Homo sapiens: one gene and its partner. The protein of the gene in region 2 interacts with the protein of the main gene of each other region in a biochemical or structural test. Each region holds a gene or a part of one and is shown on either strand. Other genes may lie near its edges.

Evidence for each region.
Region 1: the proteins of LIN28B (region 2) and TRIM71 form a complex in vitro, tested with the Homo sapiens proteins (one study listed by BioGRID).

What each region holds. Positions count from the first base shown.
Region 1 is NC_000003.12:32,820,144-32,829,978, reverse strand, and holds part of TRIM71 (E3 ubiquitin-protein ligase TRIM71), read right to left. Parts: intron 1-9,835.
Region 2 is NC_000006.12:104,958,946-104,968,780, reverse strand, and holds part of LIN28B (protein lin-28 homolog B), read right to left. Parts: intron 1-9,835. UniProt on the Homo sapiens protein: Suppressor of microRNA (miRNA) biogenesis, including that of let-7 and possibly of miR107, miR-143 and miR-200c.

The DNA of each region.
Region 1 (9,835 bases), on a different chromosome or scaffold from region 2:
CCAGCCTGGGCGACAGAGCAAGACTCCATCTCGAAAAAAAAAAAAAAAAAAAAAAATTCAGGCAGTAAATTTAGTATTAAGCAGATTTTTAAGGGTTAATTTCAAAAAGCTACACTTGTCAATAACACATGTTACTGTCACATAAATAGCAATGTGGAAAGAGTGCTAGACTAGGAGTCAGGACAGTTTCTGATGAAGTCATTTCATAACCAGGCCTCAGCATTCCCATTTGTAATGGAGAAGCTTCTTCTATGAAGACTTAAGGCCTTTCTTGTGATTTGATTCCTCTTCAGATGCCTCCTCCAATGCACACACACGCACACACAAACACACACACACACACACACACACAATACCATGACATTAATGCTTACTAAATATTCTAGTTGCTGAGATTAGACTGTTCCATTGAGCAAGTTGATCTGCTTCCTTGATATGCCACAGTTTCCCTTCCTCTCCCCAGCCCCCACACAATATCTTGGCTTTAAAGATTAGTGGTGACAGCAGGGCATCGTGGCTCACGCCTGTAATCCCAGCACTTTGGGAGACAGGCAGATCACCTGAGGTTGGAGTTTGAGACCAGCCTGACCAACACAGAGAAACCCCCTCTCTACTGAAAATACAAAATTAGTTGGGTGTGGTGGCTCATGCCTGTAATCCCAGCTACTCGGGAGGCTGAGGCAGGAGAATCACTTGAACCTGAGAGGTGGAGGTTGCAGTGAGCCAAGATCGTGCCATTCCACTCCAGCCTGGGCAACAAGAGCAAAACTCCATCTCAAAAAAAAAAAAAAAAGAAAAGAAAAAAGAAAAAAAGAAAATTATCCAGGCATGGCGGTGCACTCCTGTACTCCCAGCTACTCAGGAGGCTGAGGCAGAAGAATTGCTTGAACCTGGGAAGCGGAGGTTGCAGTGAGCCGAGATCACATCACTGCACTCCAGCCTGGGCGACAGAGGGAAAGTCCGTGTCAAAAAAAAAAAAAATTAGTGCTTTCTAGTGGGGGACAGTGGCTCATGCCTGTAACCCCAGTACTCTAGGAGACTGACATAGGAGGATTGCTATCACTTGAGGCCAAGAGTTCAAGATCAGTGAACTGGGCAACAAAGTGAGAACCCTGTCTCTACAAAAAAATTATAAGAAAAATTAGTGGTTTTCAAACATGTCATATAAAATGTAAATTGGGGCCAGATGAGGTGGCTCACGCCTGTAATCCCAGCACTTTGGGAGGACAGGCAGGAGGGTGGCTTGAGCCCAAGGGTCAGACACAAGCCTGGGCAACATGGTGCAACCCAGTCTCTACAAAAAGAATTTTTTTTAATTAGCCGGGCATCGTGGCATGCACCTTCTCAGAAGGCAGAGGTGGGAGGATCACTTGAGCCGGGAAGGTTGAGACAGCAGTAAGCTGTGATTGCACCACTGCACTCCAGCCTGGGTGACAGAGCAAGACTCCATCTCAAAAAAAAAAAAAAAAAAAAAAAGTTTACAATTGCCTTCAATTGTAGGGCACTGTGCTATGAGACTTTATATTTCAGCTCTACTCCTTACAACACCGCAAAGAGTTACCCTCATTTTACAGATGCAAAAACTGAGGCAAAGCAGAATCTAACCTAGAATCAGAGTGCTCAAGCAAAGCCAAATAATAGACACTTGATTAAGACTGCCTATCAGGAGTCTTACATTTTTCCAACTGTTACCTAAACTTTCTACTCTCCTGCTCAATGCTTATCTACAACATTTCTGGAAGCATTTTCAGTACAAATCTATTGATAATCCTAAGTAATAGAAATATCTCCCTTTGACACTGATCTCGGAGGGCACAGACCAAAATGTGGAGATATATGATCTAAACTCCTGAATTCCTTTAAGTGTCCAATACATGGTAATAATGGCTGCTGATGCCACTCATTCACAATTCTCATTTCTAAAACACCAGTGCTTAAGTAGTCATCCAATCTATATTTAGCAGCAAAACTTAAGTGCAGATTTTTTATACAACAGCATTTTAATAATTATCCCAATTAGTCCCAAAAGAGTATGAAACGACTTCCCCAAATCCACTGGCATTTCAAGAAAAACATTTTAACTGCAAAAGGTTAAGACGAGAAGAAAATGGCTGGCCAAACTTTCCAGAAGTAACAGCTACAGGATGCAGCAGCCAACAGATGTTTACAAAGGCTCTCATTCTCAGAGGCGCCTGACCTGATTGACCACTCAGGCTCCAAGGTCCATTCAAGGGCCCCTGGAATTCACAGGGTGTCAGAACCAGGAGGGTATGTCCTCAGTCTACACAACTGATCTGCACCCACTTTATTCTTTTTTGTGCCCACTGCTCTGCTTTAAAACCTATTAATGTTGACAAAATGTGCTATTCTGCAGAAGCTCTTATAGATAAATGATCACAATCAAGAATTATCCCCCCTTGCAAGGCGCGGTGGCTCACGCCTGTAATCCCAGCACTTTGGGAGGCTGAGGCGGCAGATCACCTGAGGTCAGGAGTTCGAGACCAGCCTGGCCAATATGGCAAAACCCCATCTCTACTAAAAATACAAAATTAGTCAGGCATGGTGGTGCATGCCTGTGATCCCAGCTACTCGTGAGACGAGGCAGGAGAATCGCTTGAACCCAGGAGGCAGAAGGTACAAGGAGCCGAGATCACACCATTACACTCCAGCCTAGGCAACAGAGTGAGACTCCACCCAAAAAAAAAAAAAAGAATTATCCCCCTACCCTTCATGACAAAGGACCTCATTCCCAATAATCACAACTTCAATATGCTAACATAATTACTGAAAACAGTATTTTTATTGCTAAAGACTACTACTTCTATGTGGAAAATTGTTTTTGAGTGAAATACAACTGACTGCTAATTTTTTGTGCCAACTGATAATTTATAGCTTCACTAAAAACAAACTCATAGCCCGGGCGCGGTGGCTCATGCCTGTTAATACCAGCACTTTGGGAGGCCGAGGCGGGTGGATCATGAGGTCAGGAGATCAAGACCATCCTGGCTAACACAGTGAAACCCCGTCTCTACTAAAAATACAAAAACAATTAGCCGGGCATGGTGGCAGGCACCTGTAGTCCCAGCTACTGGGAAGGCTGAGGCAGGAGGATGGCGTGAACCCAGGAGGCAGAGCTTGCAGTGAGCTGAGTTCGCACCACTGCACTCCAGCCTCAGGGACAGGACAGAGCAAGACTCCGTCTCAAAAAAACAAACAAAACACAAAACTCACCTGACCGGGTGTGGTGGCTCACACCTGTAATCCCAGCACTTTGGGAGGCCAAGGTGGGTGGACCATTTGAGGTCAGGAGTTTGAGACCAGCCTGACCAACATGGTGCCACTACACTCCAGCCTGGGTGACAGAGCTCCCTCTCAAAAAAAAAAAAAAAAAAAAAAGAACTCACCTGATGGGAATTAAAGTTCTGGTTAGGAACCATCTAGGATTAGTAGAAAATCTACAGTAAGGATGACAAAAAAAACTATTAGCCTAAGTCTAATATGAGTATCTCTAAAACTCAGGTTTGGATGGGAGTTTGTTTGTGAGACATAGTCTTGTTCTATCGCCCAGACTGGAGTGCAATAGCATGATCCTGGCCCACTGCAACCTCCGCCTCCCACGCTCAAGTGATTCTCCTGCCTCAGCCTCAGTAGCTGGGATTCGTCCGGCTAATTTTTGTATTTTGAGTAGAGATGGGGTTTCACCATGTTGGTAGGCTGGTCTCGAACTCTGGGCCTTATGTGATCTGCCCACGTCAGCCTCCCAAAGTGCTGGGATTGCAGGCGTAAGCCACCGCACCCTGCCTGGATGGGAGTTGAGTGGGATCTTCCCCCATTTCATTTCATTCTACCACCTTCAAAGCCAGTTGTAAGCAAACTGCATTTATCTACAGCATGAGGAAGGCAAGAGATGGCATGGGAGAGGCAAAGATTTACTTTGGAATATCGTTTAAGTCAAACAGTTTCAAATGTAAAGGGACACCACTAGGCCCCCTACTCCTCCCACTTTTTAGGTTGACAAGTCAGAGTCTTGTCAATCAAAACAGTCAATCTGGTTTCAGTCAACTCAGTTTGTGAGTATAGACAAAACCTCAAAAGGAGGGGAATAATTTAGTATTGAACAAGCAGGAGGTCACATCAGCTTTAGAGGAAAGATGGATCAAGCTTACTCTTGCAAGCCACAATGCTTGAAAGGTCAAGAAGAAAAGCGGTAACGGAGTAGGCTTCAATGGGTGGCATCTTGCTCCCTTAAGGCAACTGTAATTCTTTATCATTATCTTTCTCTTGCTCGCTTCCAAAATGTCAGAGATAGCAAAAACAGCCTTAGTGAGCCAGGCCTTTAACCTTTATTAGTTTTATGGGTGGGAGTGGGAGAAGGGGGGAAGCAGTATTTTGAAACTGCCTGCATAGTATAGAATTCATCTCACCCTTTTGCCTGTCAAAAATGACACTGAAATGGTCCTTTATTTGCTAAGAATGAACACAGACAAAATAAACCTTGCCCTGTGTAGAGAACTGGATGGAGAAATGGCAAACCATGTGACTTTTAGCACCAGAAATAACTCAGAGGGGGTTAAATTTTAGAGCTACAGAATTATTTAATGAAAATTTCTCTTGAACCAGAAAAATTTATAAACACGTTTTACCCTGGCAAACCACTTAAAAAAAAGCGTTTTAGCCATTTAACTTCATTGACAGCTTCCACAAGAGCTAACTCCCTTACTATATATGCACGATTATTAGTTCCTTTTTTCAGTGAAAAGACATAAAGCCCAATTATGCTCATAATTTTACATGTGAGGAGAAAGTTGCATCCATATTAAGTAGTACTTGAGGAAACTAGACATTTAAGCCTCCTGAGATCCTTCTAGAAAAGGACTACCTAAGGGCCAGGCACAGTGGCTCACACCTGAATCCCAGCACTTTGGGAGGTCGAGTTAGGCAGATCACCTTGAGGTCAGGAGCTCAAGACCAGCCTGGCCAACATGGTGAAACACCGTCTCCACTAAAAATACAAAAATTAGCCAGGCATGGTGGCACATGACTGTAGTCCCAGCTACTTGGGAGGCTGAGGCTGAAGAATTGCTTGAACCAGGGAGGCGGAGGTTGCAGTGAGCCAAGATCGCGCCACTGAACTCCAGCCTGGGTGACACAGCGAGACTCCATCTCAAGAAAAAAAGAAAAGAAAAGGACTATCTAGCCCAGCGAGGTGGCTCATGACTGAAATCCCAGCATTTTGGGAGGCCTAGGTAGGCAGGTCGCTTGACCTTGGGAGTTTGAGACCAGCCTGGGCAACATGGCGAAACGCCATCTCCACAAAAATTACAAAAATTAGCCAGGTGTGATGGCTAGAGCCTGTAGTCCCAGCTACTTGAGAGACACAGGCAGGAGGATCTCTTAAGCCTGAGAAGTCAAGGCTTTAAGGAGCTGTACAACTGCACTCCAGCCTGGGATGAGTGAGACTCAGCCTTAAGAAAAGGACTAGGGCCAGGCGCGGTGGCTCTTGCCTGTAATCAATCCCAGCCCTTTGGGAAGCCGAGGCAGGTGGATCACCTGAGGTCAGGAGTTAGAGACAAGCCTGGCCAATATGGTGAAACCCCGTCTCTACTTAAAAAAAAAAAAAAGAAAGAAAAAAAATTAGCCGGACAAGGTGACGAGCGCCTGTAATCCCCGTTACTTGGGAGGCTGAGGCAGGAGAATCACTTGAACCCGTGAGGTGGAGGTTGTAGTGAGCCAAGACTGCACCACCGCACTCCAGCCTGGATAACAAGAGTGAAACTCCATCTCAGAAAAAAACAAAAGGACTAAATAAAAGTATTAAGTAAGTAGCTATAATACAATGGGAGGGAGAACTAGATGGGAAATGGCAATTTTTACCTAATCTTCAAACACTTTTTTTTTTCTTTTTTTGAGACAAGTCTCACTGTTGCCCAGGTTGGAGTGCAGCGGCACGATCTCGGATCACTGCGGCCTCCGCCTCCCCAGTTCAAGCAATGCTCCTGCCTCAGCCTCCTGGGTAGCTGGGACTACAGGCACGCGCCACCACGCCTGGCTAATTTTTGTTGTATTTTTAGTAGAGACAGGGTTTCACCATGTTGGCCAGGATGGTCTCGATCTCTTGACCTCGTGATCCGCCCGCCTCGGCCTCCCAAAGGCGCGGTGGCTCACGCCTGACCCTCTTCAAACACTTTTAGGAAGATTTCCCTGTATCTTTTTAGATAGTCTCGCTCCGTCACCCAGGCTGGAGTGCAATGGCATGATCTCGGCTCACTGCACCCTCGGCTCACTGCAACCTCCGCCTCCTGGGTTTCCCCATTTCAAGTACAACTATTTCACTTTGAAAACAATGTCAATGATAAAGAACAAATACCGTTGTCAAATGAAGAACTGGAAGTCTAGAAAAAGTAACGTTTTTTTCCCCAAATATCTTGTCTTCCAAAATGTATATTCCTAGAATTGGAAATAAAAATCTTGTATCAAATCTATGCAATCCCCAAACCACTAAAACCACTATAGTTTATCTTTGTAAAGGAAGGAAACTGAACAAATAATCACAAAAGGTTTCCCAGACAGTGCTGATACCACAACAGCCTCCATACTACTAGCACAGTTTATGACAGGTTATGCCTTCAAGGCAACCTCATCAGCACAGGCTTGCCAAACTAGCTGTGGCCCACTTCCTGAGGGTCCATGTTGAAAAATCCATTCCTATGCACTTTAATGGAACTACCTTAAGCCCACAAAGGCTAAGCAATTAACATATCAATAACGAACATTTCCCTCCCATATATTTTTATCAAGCATTTTCTGAATTCAGTAGGCTTCCTAATGTCTACCTGCTGAACTGGATTCAAAGCAGCAACCTCTGTAATTATTTTCAAGGCAGTTAGGTTTGGTTTTCCAGCCAGTAGGTGAGATGTCTGCACTCAGAGGACATATTCACCCAGTAGTGTAGAGCAGGTTGAAAGCAGGTAACAGAAATACTAGAATACCCATTTCTGTTCACTTTCTCTCCTTGTCCTTCCTTTAAAAAAATTTTTTTTAAAAATTTGTTGAAATTAATATGAATCAATCGGATTCCAATTAAAATGCCAATTTCTTGTAGAAATTCTCAAAGTTTATCATAAATTTCACCAACTTAGTTACATCTGATCGCCTCTAAAGACGGAAAAGATAGGAAAGTGGTTCTTTAGCTATACCTACATTTCACACCCTTAAAAAGAGAATTACTTCGACATGCAGTGTAAGTGGGAAAATTTGTATTATGCTTTTAAAAATATTTTGGTATGGATTTTATAATTTATGCAAGAACATGAATATAATTTAAAATAAGCATGCATACACTGAGTATATGCAGACCTGAAAAAACTTAGACTTTGGGAACAGAGAATAATATACACTGGTGCTGAATACAGGTACAGTCCCATTTACAATATGACTTAAAATATACAAAACAAATTCACACAGCAACCGATTATTTTAGGCAGCAAACCTCCTTGTTCCAAGTGACTGAAGCCACTTTAAGTTTCCTGCCAGGAGACAGTCCCAGGAGTGCTCAATGTTCAGGGTCAAATCAAGTTGGAATTCTAGAACTTTTCTCTTCAGGAGGCATTTTAAAGCCCAACACAGGGACCGCATGGATTCTACCAACACCTGCACCCCTTTTTCCAACCAGACTCCAGAAAACGCCACCCCCAGACCTGCCTAACTGGGAACAATATTGCCATCCTCGGGTGGGGCGGGCTACAATGTTTTCCAGGTGGCAACAATGTCACCCCCACTGCCCCTCACCGCTAGTGACAGAGGCTTTCCTGGGTTCAAACCCTGCTCAACTTCCCGCCATTCACAGAATCCTGACGCCCAGCTTAGGCACACAACACACCCAGCATTTCTGCTGCCGGTGTCGCCTCCAAGGCTGCAAAGGGCTCACGTTCTATGTGCCAAAAGCAAAACAACACTAAAGGGTCACTTGTGAGCAGCTGGAGCAGCGCTCACAACTCCCTAGTTGTGAAACTCTTCCCCCAAAACTCAAGCGAAGACCCTACTCCATGACCAGAGCGGCCGTGAATACCCCAGCGGGTGCCTGCGGGGAGAAGAGCAGCCGCCGGCCAGGCCACGTCCCCAGAGCCGAGGCAGGCTCCGGGCTGGCCGGGCGGCGGCGCAGGCCCGCGGCGACTCTACCTGCGCCCGCCTCTCCCGGGACCCGCGGCACGCAGCGGGCCCGCGGCCAGCTGTTCCGGGGACGGCGACCTCGGATTCCTCGCCTTGGATTCCCCGCCCGGATGCCGGCTGGGCCACGGAGCCTGCAGGCCTTTCGGACTCTGGAGGCACAGAACTAGTGAAAAGCCCCAACTATGTTGTTGAAATAAGCCAAAATAAAAGAGTAGCAGCAAGTACGTCTCATTATTTCGTTGGAAAACCCAAAGATTTCCAGGTTATCATCATTACGGTTTAAAGCCAATTGCTCAGACGAGACACCTTACTTGCCAATCCTAAGAAGGCATTTTACAAGGGGATGCTTAAGGAAGAAAGTCCCCCTGGGCGAGAGACCCTGCAGGCTGGGGTAGGGTGTTTGGGCCTCCTTCCCAAGGTCAGGTGGCCTGAGTCACTATAAGGAAAAGGTGCTACTCTGAATTATTTAACGGAGCCTGTGGACAAGGGAAGCAACTCAGTTAAGGAGCTCATCTTAAAAATTGAGGTAGACAGTATACACATTAAAATATGTGGATTTAGGCATTCAGTGTATCGCAGTCCAGATATGGGTCAGTCTATCATCCTCCAAAAATGTCCTAAAGCTCCTTCCCAGCCAGAGAGGGATGACTTTTTAAAGGAACAATATTCTCAAACTGTTAACGAGATCAAAAGAAAAGGAATTATTTAAGCTGTAGGTGGAACCGTTTATGAACCTCACTACCTGTTAGTGCTGTCTCTCCTAACACTTTAGTCTTCTACTCAGAACACTGGTTTGTCACCTTTAATCTCAAATTTCTAGCGTTCTAAATCCAGGAATGAATAAAAAGGCCAAACAACTTCCGAAATGTTTTTAATGAAAAGCTAAAGGGAGCAAGCAGAATCTTGCTCAAAACTGAGCAAATTTTATGTTAAGGATTATTAGTTACTTCAACCTGACATTGCACATGCTAAAAAGTGAATTTGAAGAGCTTCCGAGTACCTCCCAGGGTGAGTGGAGAGCTTCACTTCTCAATTCACACTCCCCAATGCAGTTTGAAGGGTTTTCTAATTTTAAAAGTGAATAAATCTTTTACAAGTCTGCCAACACTGAGCATCTACTGTTTCAGCCCAAATAAAATATAGGTGTATCTTTAACTGGAAATATAAACTGACATTTAAACTAAAAGCACCTCTCAGAAGGGGAAACTCCTGGATTCAACCCCATTCTGCTCACCCTGCATTTGATCCCAAACTGCAAGTGAATTGGCTCCATTTTTCTGTTCCTGGGATTTGGATCGGTATTTACCTCAATCACTCATTTTTCTAAAAGTGATGAAAGAACATGAACCCACAGTATATTAAAACTAGGAGTCCATTCAAAGTTTAAAAACGGAAAAAAAAGATAACTGCCCCCTAGCTTCTTACCTAGAAGAAACCTTTTAAAAGGAGATGCCTACAACAAGTAGATTAGAATTTCAACTTTTTTCCAACAGGAGAAGCCAGCTAAAGGCCATCAGGCAATAGCTCCGCCCTCCTCCCCAAATAACAGGTTAGGAGTGGAAAAGGCAGCGGCGCTGGGCTCACCTTTGCGGTGCTCGGTACCCACTCTCCAGCTCACACAGGCCACGACCCCCACTATGGCTTTTAAAGCCTCTGCAGTCTCCAG
Region 2 (9,835 bases):
AAAATAATTTAAGCATTATAGGATCTGGGAACATTCTATTCACTATCTCTAATGGCCTAGGAAATTGCTTACAAAAGCTTAAGGAAGAAAATGATCACCAACAAATCTTGGCCAAAGTAAAAGTAATTTGAAATTTATATGGAGTCTTTATATCCTATAACACCATAAAACGAAATAGCAATCTTAAGAGTTATTACCAAATTAAACTTACAAGATTTAAAAAGTCTAATTTTAAGATTAACAAAAGTAATAAATTTAAGTGGGTTTTGATTTTTTAAAGTGGGCTGTTATGACAAAGATTTAAAGCAGCTGGTAGAAATTAAGTATATTACTAATAGCACAATAAATTAATGATTCTAAGCACTGGCAAAAACAGTTTCTCCACATGAAATGTGAAAAACATATTTTAATACTACTGAGAAATCATTGCATTTAGCTCAAAATTTTAAAACTAATATTTGCTTTTTATCTTAGCTATCCCAAAATTAAATTGGTAGAGACTGTATAATTAGACTTCGTAAAAGGAAGTGAATACAACACAGGAAAAATGATCCTTTGCTTTTATGCCTTATATGCAAACAATGAGAATTAACTGGAAAAAACTTATTTTAAATTTTGCTAAAATGAAAATACCAAACCAACAGTGTTTCACTGAGTACATGATCAATAAAAATTAGTTGGCTTTACTGAACCACGATTTTTATAATCATTTTTTAAAAGTTAATACTTTTCTATGACATTAAGCCATCTTGTTGATTTACATTTCCAAAAATGTTTATACAAGCTGAGCAAAGTGGCTCACATCTGTAATCCCAGCACTTAAGGAGGCAGAGGCAGGAGGATTACCTGAAGCCAGGAGTTCTAAACCAGCCTGGTCAACAAGGCAAGATTCTGTCTCTACAAAAAATTTTAAAAATTAGCCAGGCGCAGTGGCATGTGCCAGGCATGGTGGTGCACGCCTGTAGTCCCAGCTACTCAGAAGGCTCAGGTTGGATAATTGCTTGAGCCAGGAGTTCGAAGTTGCAGTGAGCTATAATCCCACCACTGCACGCCAGCCTGGGTGACTGAGGAAGACCCTGTTTCTAAATAATAATAATAATAATAATTAATTAAATAAAAATTTTAAAAATGTTTATACAAAAACTGAGTTGGGACAGAAATTCAATAAATTTCTTTCTTTCTTTTTTTTTTTTTTTTTTTTTTTGAGAGGGAGTTTCACTCTTGTCGCCTGGAGTGCAATGGCATGATCTCGGTTCTCTGCAACCTCCACCTCCCGGGTTCAAGTGATTCTCCTGCCTCAGCCTTCCAAATAGGTGGGATTACAAGCATGTGCCACCAGGCCTGTCTAATTTTTTGTATTTTTAGGAGAGACAGGGTTTTACCATGTTGGCCAGGCTGGTCTCAAATTCCTGACCTCAAGTGATCCACCCCCCTCAGCCTCCCAAAGTGCTGGGATTACAGGCATGAGCCACCATGCCCAGCCAATTCAATAAATTTCTGACAAGACATATGAACATCAATAAGCCTAATTATGCCCTTTAAGTAAGTGGTGAGTTTACAGCACATGAGAAAATACCATAATGATAAATGAAATTAATATTATATTGAAGATTAGTAAAATGCATATGAATTAATCTCATTAACAAGCACAGACACTACTAGGATAAAGGTTAATTTCCAGGTAGAAAAAAAAACTAAAGAAAACCAGAGTGAGGCCAGGCATGGTGATTCACGCCTGTAAATCTCTGTAACTTTGGCAGGCTGAGGTGGGAGGATCCCTTGAGCCCAGGAGTTCAAGACCAGCCTGGGCAACATGGGGAGACCCCGTCTCTACAAATATAATAAAAAATATCAGCCAGAGGTTGGGCGCGGTGGCTCACGCCTGTAATCCCAGCACTTTGGGAGGCCGAAGTGGGCGGATCACAACGTCAGGAGATTGAGACCATCCTGGCTAACTCGGTGAAACCCCATCTCTACTAAAAATACAAAAAATTAGCCGGGCGTGGTGGCGAGTGCCTGTAGTCACAGCTACTCTGGAGGCTGAGGCAGGAGAATGGCGTGAACCTGGGAGGCGGAGCTTGCAGTGAGCCGATACAGCACCACTGCACTCCAGCCTGGGCAATGTAGCGAGACTCTGTCTCAAAAAAAAAAAAAAAAAAAATCAGCCGGGCATGGTGATGCACACCTAGAATCCCAGCATCTCAGAAGGCTCAGGTGGGATAATTGCTTGAGTCAGGAGTTTGAGGTTGCAGTGAGCCATGATCCCACCACTGCACTCCAGCCTGAGCAAGAGCAATACTCTGTCTCAAAACAAAAACCAGAAAAACTCTTATAATTAAAATGATTAATAAAAACATAGCTCTTGAAAAAAAGATAAAAACTAAAACCTGAGATTGTTACAGTTTTTAAATTATTTTCATGTGTATTATTTCAATTGACCCTTACCATAACCCTCTAAAATAAAGATGAAAAATATTATTTATCACATTTTACCCATAAGAACACTGAAGCTCCCTGGAAGTGACCAGCCAAAAGTTATAAACCAACCAACTGGCAGAGCCGAAGCCAAACACTCATTCCCATGGTTTTTTTTCTCACAATACCACACTACTTCTCCTTTATAATACTAATTATGTACAACACACATTGAGTCCCTACTATCTGCCAAGTTTGTGTTAGGTGCTTTACATATGTAATAACATGTAATCCTCCTAACAGCCCTATACAAAGTGGGTACTATTTTTGTCCTCCGATTTATAGGCCATTGAGACACTGACAAGGTAACTTACTTCCCTTACAGGTATCTAATAAACTGGGATTTGAATACTGATTTGACCAGAATCTTTATCATTCTATACTATCTTACAAAGATTAAATAATTATTAACCAAAAAATGGTATTAAATTATCACAACAGGCCTATTTAAAACAGTATTTTTTCTTTAGCTTATAATGAATACACATGCATATGTACACAGGTAAAATCTTACACAGGTAAAATCTTATGTTACAACAATTATTAAAACCAAAATATCTGCATAACAAAAATATTTCCAAGCTGCAGTTTACACCCTGATACTTTAAACAATATTCTAGGCCTGGCACTGTTGCTCATGCCTGTAATCCCAGGACTTTGGGAGGCCAAGGCAGGAGGATCACTTGAGCCCAGGAAGTCAAGGCTTCAGTAAGCTATGATCCTGCCACTGCACTCTAGCCTAGGCAACAGAGTGAGACCAGATCTCAAAAAAAATAATAATTTTAGAGACCATCTTGCTCTGTCGTCCAGACTGGAGTGCAATGGAGTGATCTCAGCTCATTGTGGCCTCTGTCTCCTGGGCTCAAGAAGTGATCCTTTTACCTCAGGCTCCCTGATATTTGGGACCACAGGTGCATGCCATCAGGCCTAGCTAATTTTTTTGGTAGGGACGGAGTTTTGCCATGTTACCCAGGCTGGTCTAAAACTCCTGGGCTCAATCTGCCAGCCTCAGCCTCCCAAAGTGCTGGGATTACAGGCATGAGCCACCATGCTCAGCCAAAAGAATTATTTTAAATAACAAAAACAATATTCAATGCCACAAAACTATAATGAAAAGCCTTAACATCAACTGTAATGGAAATTAAACTATTAATATACAACACATTTTGGCCAATTTTAAAGAAAGCACATAAAAGACCAGCTTAATTATCCACCATGAGTATACACCACTGAAAATAACTTATCCATTATTCTTTTGGCAAAGACCAGTTTACATTAGTTTATTTTCTCAACAGACACTTACTAGGCAGTTATATAACATTACCTCTACTCTTCAAAACAACTTTAAAAGTTAGGTATTACTCCAGGTAACAGAAAATTATAGAAAAAATTATAACACTAAATCTATCAATTATTTGTAAATCTTATTTAGAAAATATTTCCAAATTGTCAAATATTTAGATATTGGAAAAGAAGAAGCAATAATCAGACTGTCCTCCAATTTGAGATAAATGATTAGATGTATCCTGATGTATCAAAATGCAACATGGTACTTTCATTACTTGTTTGATAAACTACTCATTAAAAGATCATTTTTAAATGTACCCCACTGACCTGCAATGTACTTTCTTAAACACATTACTGTTATCAACTTTTATGATATTAGAAGATGCTATAATCAATTATTTTAGGGAGGAATATAAATCAGTTGAATTTCTTATGCATTGTATATGGTACAATGCCATCTATTGTAACTATGTATTAAATAAGCTGAACTTCCTGTTACTCAAAACTCAGGGGAAATAGCTCAAAGTATAAAGAACTGATAGTCTTTGATAATGATAAAATATCCCATATTTCATTCCAAATCAAGTCTATAGAATATAACATTTAAGATAACTTTCCAGTTTAATTGATCAGAAGTATCTTCACTTTGTTTAGGTTATTCTCAGTTTAGAAGTAAGAATATAGTACATCAAGCTGGACACAGTGGTGCATGCCTGTAGTCACAGCTATTAGGGAGGCTGAGGAGGGAGTATCTCTTGAGACTAGCTAGGAGTTCCAGGTCAGCCTGGGTAACTTAGTCTCAAAAAAACAAAAACAACACAGTGCATCTTATTTTTAAGTAGCAACTTTTAAGTTAATCACAAACCAAAAGAGCTGCTCGGTTAAAATAGACATAACTATCTGTAATATTTCTAACTATCTCTGAATAGGAAGAATTAAACCAAATCCAAATAATGTTTTGTTGCTGCCTGAAAGCGACAAAAATTACAGTGAAGGACTCAATTTTTAATCTACCAAGGTGAACGCAGATAACAAATAAGCTTTTAATTTCTCATGAAACCTAAGAACTCTAAGATAAGTTAAAGACATGCTTTAAAAGGTTACACTGAATACTTGTAAGTGGTTTGACACTCATATTTTTATTTAAAAAATTATTCTTTGATTTACTGCATTCATTTGTTGTGAATAGTCTTTTAAAATAAAAGAGGAATTGAAAATTAGCGAGAACATGCAACACCAAAGGCTAACACTAATATAAACTATGGACTCTGTGTGATTATGATGTGTCAATGTACATTCATTAATTGAAACAAATGTGCCACTCTTGGTAGGGGATGTTGATAATGGAGGATGCTATGCATTTGAAGGGGCAAGGGTACATGGAAAAATCTATGTATTTTCCTCTTAATTTTGCTGTGAACCTAAAACTGCTCTTTAAAAAGGCAGGAGAAAAATATTTAAGAAGTACACCAATAATCTTTAAAACAGGAGAAAGGCCTACATCTTCAATATGTACCCAATTCACATTTCACATTTAAATTGAATCAGAATGTCTTTGTAGGACTTAAATACATGAAAAAGAGTCTGAGAAATGCACCACCACTTGAAAATCAAAAGTATCTTTAGGGCTACATTAAGAAATCTTATAAAATTTTGTTTTATAATAAATGCCTGGCCAGGAGCGGTGGCTCACGCCTGTAATCCCAGCACTTTGGGAGGCCGAGGTGGGTGGATCATGAGGTCAGGAGATCGAGAGCATCCTGGCTAACACAGTGAAACCCCGTCTCTACTAAAAATACAAAAAATTAGCCGGGCGTGGTGGCGGGCGCCTGTAGTCCCAGCTACTCAGGAGGCTGAAGCAGGAGAATGGCGTGAACCCGGAAGGCGGAGTTGCAGTGAGCAGAGATCGCGCCACTGCACTCCAACCTGGGCGACAGAGCCAGATACTGTCTCAAGAAAAAAATTAAAAATAAAATGCCTTTAAATGTGATGTTATGATTAAACGGCCTTAAAGCACTCAGCTTGAGATTCTCTGAAAATGGTCAACTGGGCAATTCATCTTAAAAATCTGGTAGGTTATAAACCATTTTAAAAATATTAAAATACGTAACTCACTATACAAATGAGCTGCTTATGTTCACATTTTCAAGTTTCCAAGATGTCTAATTTTTTTTAATTGGCATTTTAAGCAGCCCAGAGAATAACAATAATCACACATATTCTTCATGTGAAAAATGATTTTATGCTTAACTATAACAAAACTAAACATGGTTAATTAATTAGCAATGAAATATTACGAAAAGCCCTTAAAAATGAATATACTGAAATAAATTTGTTTTCCTACATTGTATAATTAATTAAATACATAAGAACTCTATATTAGATCAATTGATTGAACTATGTGTAAGAAATTTTTCATATATTTAAGCACTAGTCATCTCTAAATGTTTTCATATCTCATACTGTTAATGCTTTAACTCAGTAACAATAATGATTTTATTTTTTCTATTTCCATTACTCCTTGAGATATTTTTGAAGCAAAGGAACATAAAATATATAAAGCCTTTCTAATGTGGGCATTTGAATTATCCATAAAGATCAAAATCTAATTCAAAAATAAAGACCATAAGAAGAAAACACCAATACTTGTAAGGTAAATGAAGATGAATAAAGGTAAATTATTAATAAATATTTAGGCCTACTGAGTAATGGTAGCTAAATTGCAGTCATTTTGAAATTACTCTTTCTCTTTGAGAAAAAAAGAGATACATACATTATGCATACATTATGAAATAAATGAAATACATTTATGTAAACAATTGTATCATATTTGATGGCAAGGAATGCCAAGTATATATACACCCAATATGTGAAGTATTATTAAGCACATAAGCTGAGGAGAGAGTAATAAGGAGAATGTATTCTACACCTTCCCAGAACAAAATCAAATTCAAATGATCATTTCATCTTATTAGGTAAGATAATGACTTTGGAAATAAATATCAAAATCTATAGAAAAACCTATATAACAAACATCAACAGGTAGTTATTAGGTTAACGTTGCCCTTCTCCAAAAGAGATCTAATATTTAATTACCATTCTATTCCTCTAAAGTACCATCAAATATTTAAGTCTTATTAAAAACTTTTAACATTTCAAAAAACTGCCAGTAACATTTTCCAGGTAATGTAAATGTTATCCTACAATCTAACTGTGATTTTAAAAAACATAAGAAACTGGTAAGAGTATTAATTACTTGCACTTACAAAATAATCATATTCTGATTTATGAAATCACCTTAGTAAAAATTTAGACTTAAAGCCGGGCGCGGTGGCTCACGCCTGTAATCCCAGCACTTTGGGAGGGGGAGGCAGGCAGATCACAAGGTCAGGAGCTCGTGACTAGCCTGGCCAACATAGTGAAACCCCATCTCTACTAAAAATACAAAAAATTAGCTAGGCGTGGTGGCGGGCACCTGTAATCCCAGCTACTCAGGAGGCTGAGGCAGAAGAATCGCTTGAACTCGTGAGGTGGAGGTTGCAGTGAGCCGAGATCTCACCACTGCACTCCAGCCCGGGTGACAGTGTGAGACTCCACCTCAAAAAAAAAATAAAAGAATTTAGACGTAACAAATTTGTATTAACCACGTATATCCTTACTTCATTTGAAACAAATCTGTGTTTGTATTACTCGAGAAATTCTTAAATATATTTAAAAATAAAATCATCAAAATTGTCCTATTTTATTAAACATTTTTTAAAAACTTCAACAGTGAGATATGACAAAATTCACAAATATAATACTTACATATTTTGTTAATTTTTTAAAAATAAAATATTCATTATTGAACTATATCAATGTTTCACAATTAACATGGGTCAGAATATATATTTTCACATCATAAAAATATGATTATTTAAATTACAAATTAACATTAGAAAATCAAATGAAGACTGTCATTTTAAACCATCAATGGTTACATACCATCCTCAAATAGCAGAATCTCACAGCATTTATCAACATGTCTAAAGAGAGACTAAAGAGAGACAAAGTACAGCACCTAGGCATGTGTTTCTTTTTGAGGATTTGGTGACATCACAGGAACTACAAGAAAGTTTGATGGTATTACTGCCAATAAATTTTAAGTAGAGTTATGTAACTATAAATATACATAACTACAAATACACAGCTCAATTTTAAAACACACACATATATATATTCTCTTTATTTTGAAGCAACTGAATATGTTTTGATATGCTGTTACATGCAATCAATATTTTTAAGAGAAAAAGTATCCTAGGTTCCTCAGCATAAATTTTTATGTATTTATTAAGGACACAAATAATTTGTTTTTTATTTCTCCAAATATACATTATTAAAAATGTTTCAGAATACTTCAAAAAAAAAATCCAGTGACACATGTACTTCCAAACACTTCAAAAAAAACTATGTCATATATTTTAAAAATTTTGAGTAGACATAGGTCCAGTTGAACATTTAAAATTCCTAATCACCTATGATACATATCCTTTCACAACAAAATAGTACATAGACATAAAACCTGGTATGTTTTCAAAAATGCTTATAAAACTAAAAAGGCCTCTAAAATAATAATAAAAATGTTTTTTAAAATTCTATGAAATCGTCTTGAATTGCAACCTTATTCCATAAGTGATGCACACATAATACCTGTATCATTTACAACCATCTGTTACTTGTAGTTGCTTAGCTAACATCAGTAGGATTCCTGCCTTCTTCAAAACAATTATTCATACAATTTATATACAATTTATGTATATTACAATATAAGAAACCTCTTTAACTAGGCATCATTTAATACTGTCCTTTTAATATATACATGAACTGTATGTATATACTACTGTATGTAACTGAATATTAAGTCAACTATTTAAAAATCAATGTTTATAGTATAGAAACAGCTATATATTTAAAAAACTTCAGCAGCTACATGTTTTAATTCAGTGAATAGAGGAATGTTTATCAATATATAATCATTAAATAGTATAAACACAAATGTCTTGTTGTTCTAAACATTAACATTGGTTAATAAAATATCTTAACATTTGATGAATATTTTAGAAGGTAAACATAGAAAATCAAATTATAAAAAGGCGTGACCAGACAAAGAAGGGTTATTTTTTTCATTCATCTATAAAACAAATTTATGAGATCATAAAAAACAATTTAACAACCTAAAGAAGGTTCAAAGGTGGAAGAAAGAGCCTGAGAGAAAATGGATTTGTCTATGATTTTTGTCATCCAGTCTTAGAGGGGAAAAAACAGAAAATGTAGCTTCATTTTGCACTATAAAATAGGAAGCATAAAATCCAGTAGTCTGTATGTGGACTTGTATTTGTGTACTTAAACCCTGTTTCAATTCACAGATTATGCTGATCCTTCCACATATAAACAGCCAATAATGATGGCCAGGCCTTCAGGAAAGGAAAACACACACCACACAGCAAGGTCAGGAAGCTACCAAGCACCACAGGACAACAGATCAAAACAGAATGGTTTCATATGTTTCTATTGTTTATATATTTAATTTGAAGATGATATTCCTTAGGGAAGGGGGTATAAATATTACTAGGAACATGCAACACAGTATCAAATATATACTTTTCAAGCAAATATACCAAATATTTCACCCATGTATCTGTCAGTCAATCTGTAGTATTAACAGCCTTTCATTCAATTCTTTTTAACTTAGATTATCATGCCAAAATAAACCTCTTTAGTCGTAAACCTCTTTATTTCTAACTACAGAAAATTTATATTTACCTTTTTTTGAGGAAACAACCGGCTTCCATAAAAGTATCTTTTTTACTATAAAGGGATTAAGCAGTAGAGAGGAGTAAAGGCAGAAGTATTAATTCATTATTTCCTGGGTAAAATTTTGAAAATGGGAAGCAATGAAATTCTGTTTGGTATTAAAACATCTTTAAAAATTACAACACAATACGAGCAAAGGTGGAAATTTACCCCAAGTAGCAGACCAGCACATTTTAAACACACAAGCAAGAGCCGCCTCTGGCCACATGTTTTTTTGAGT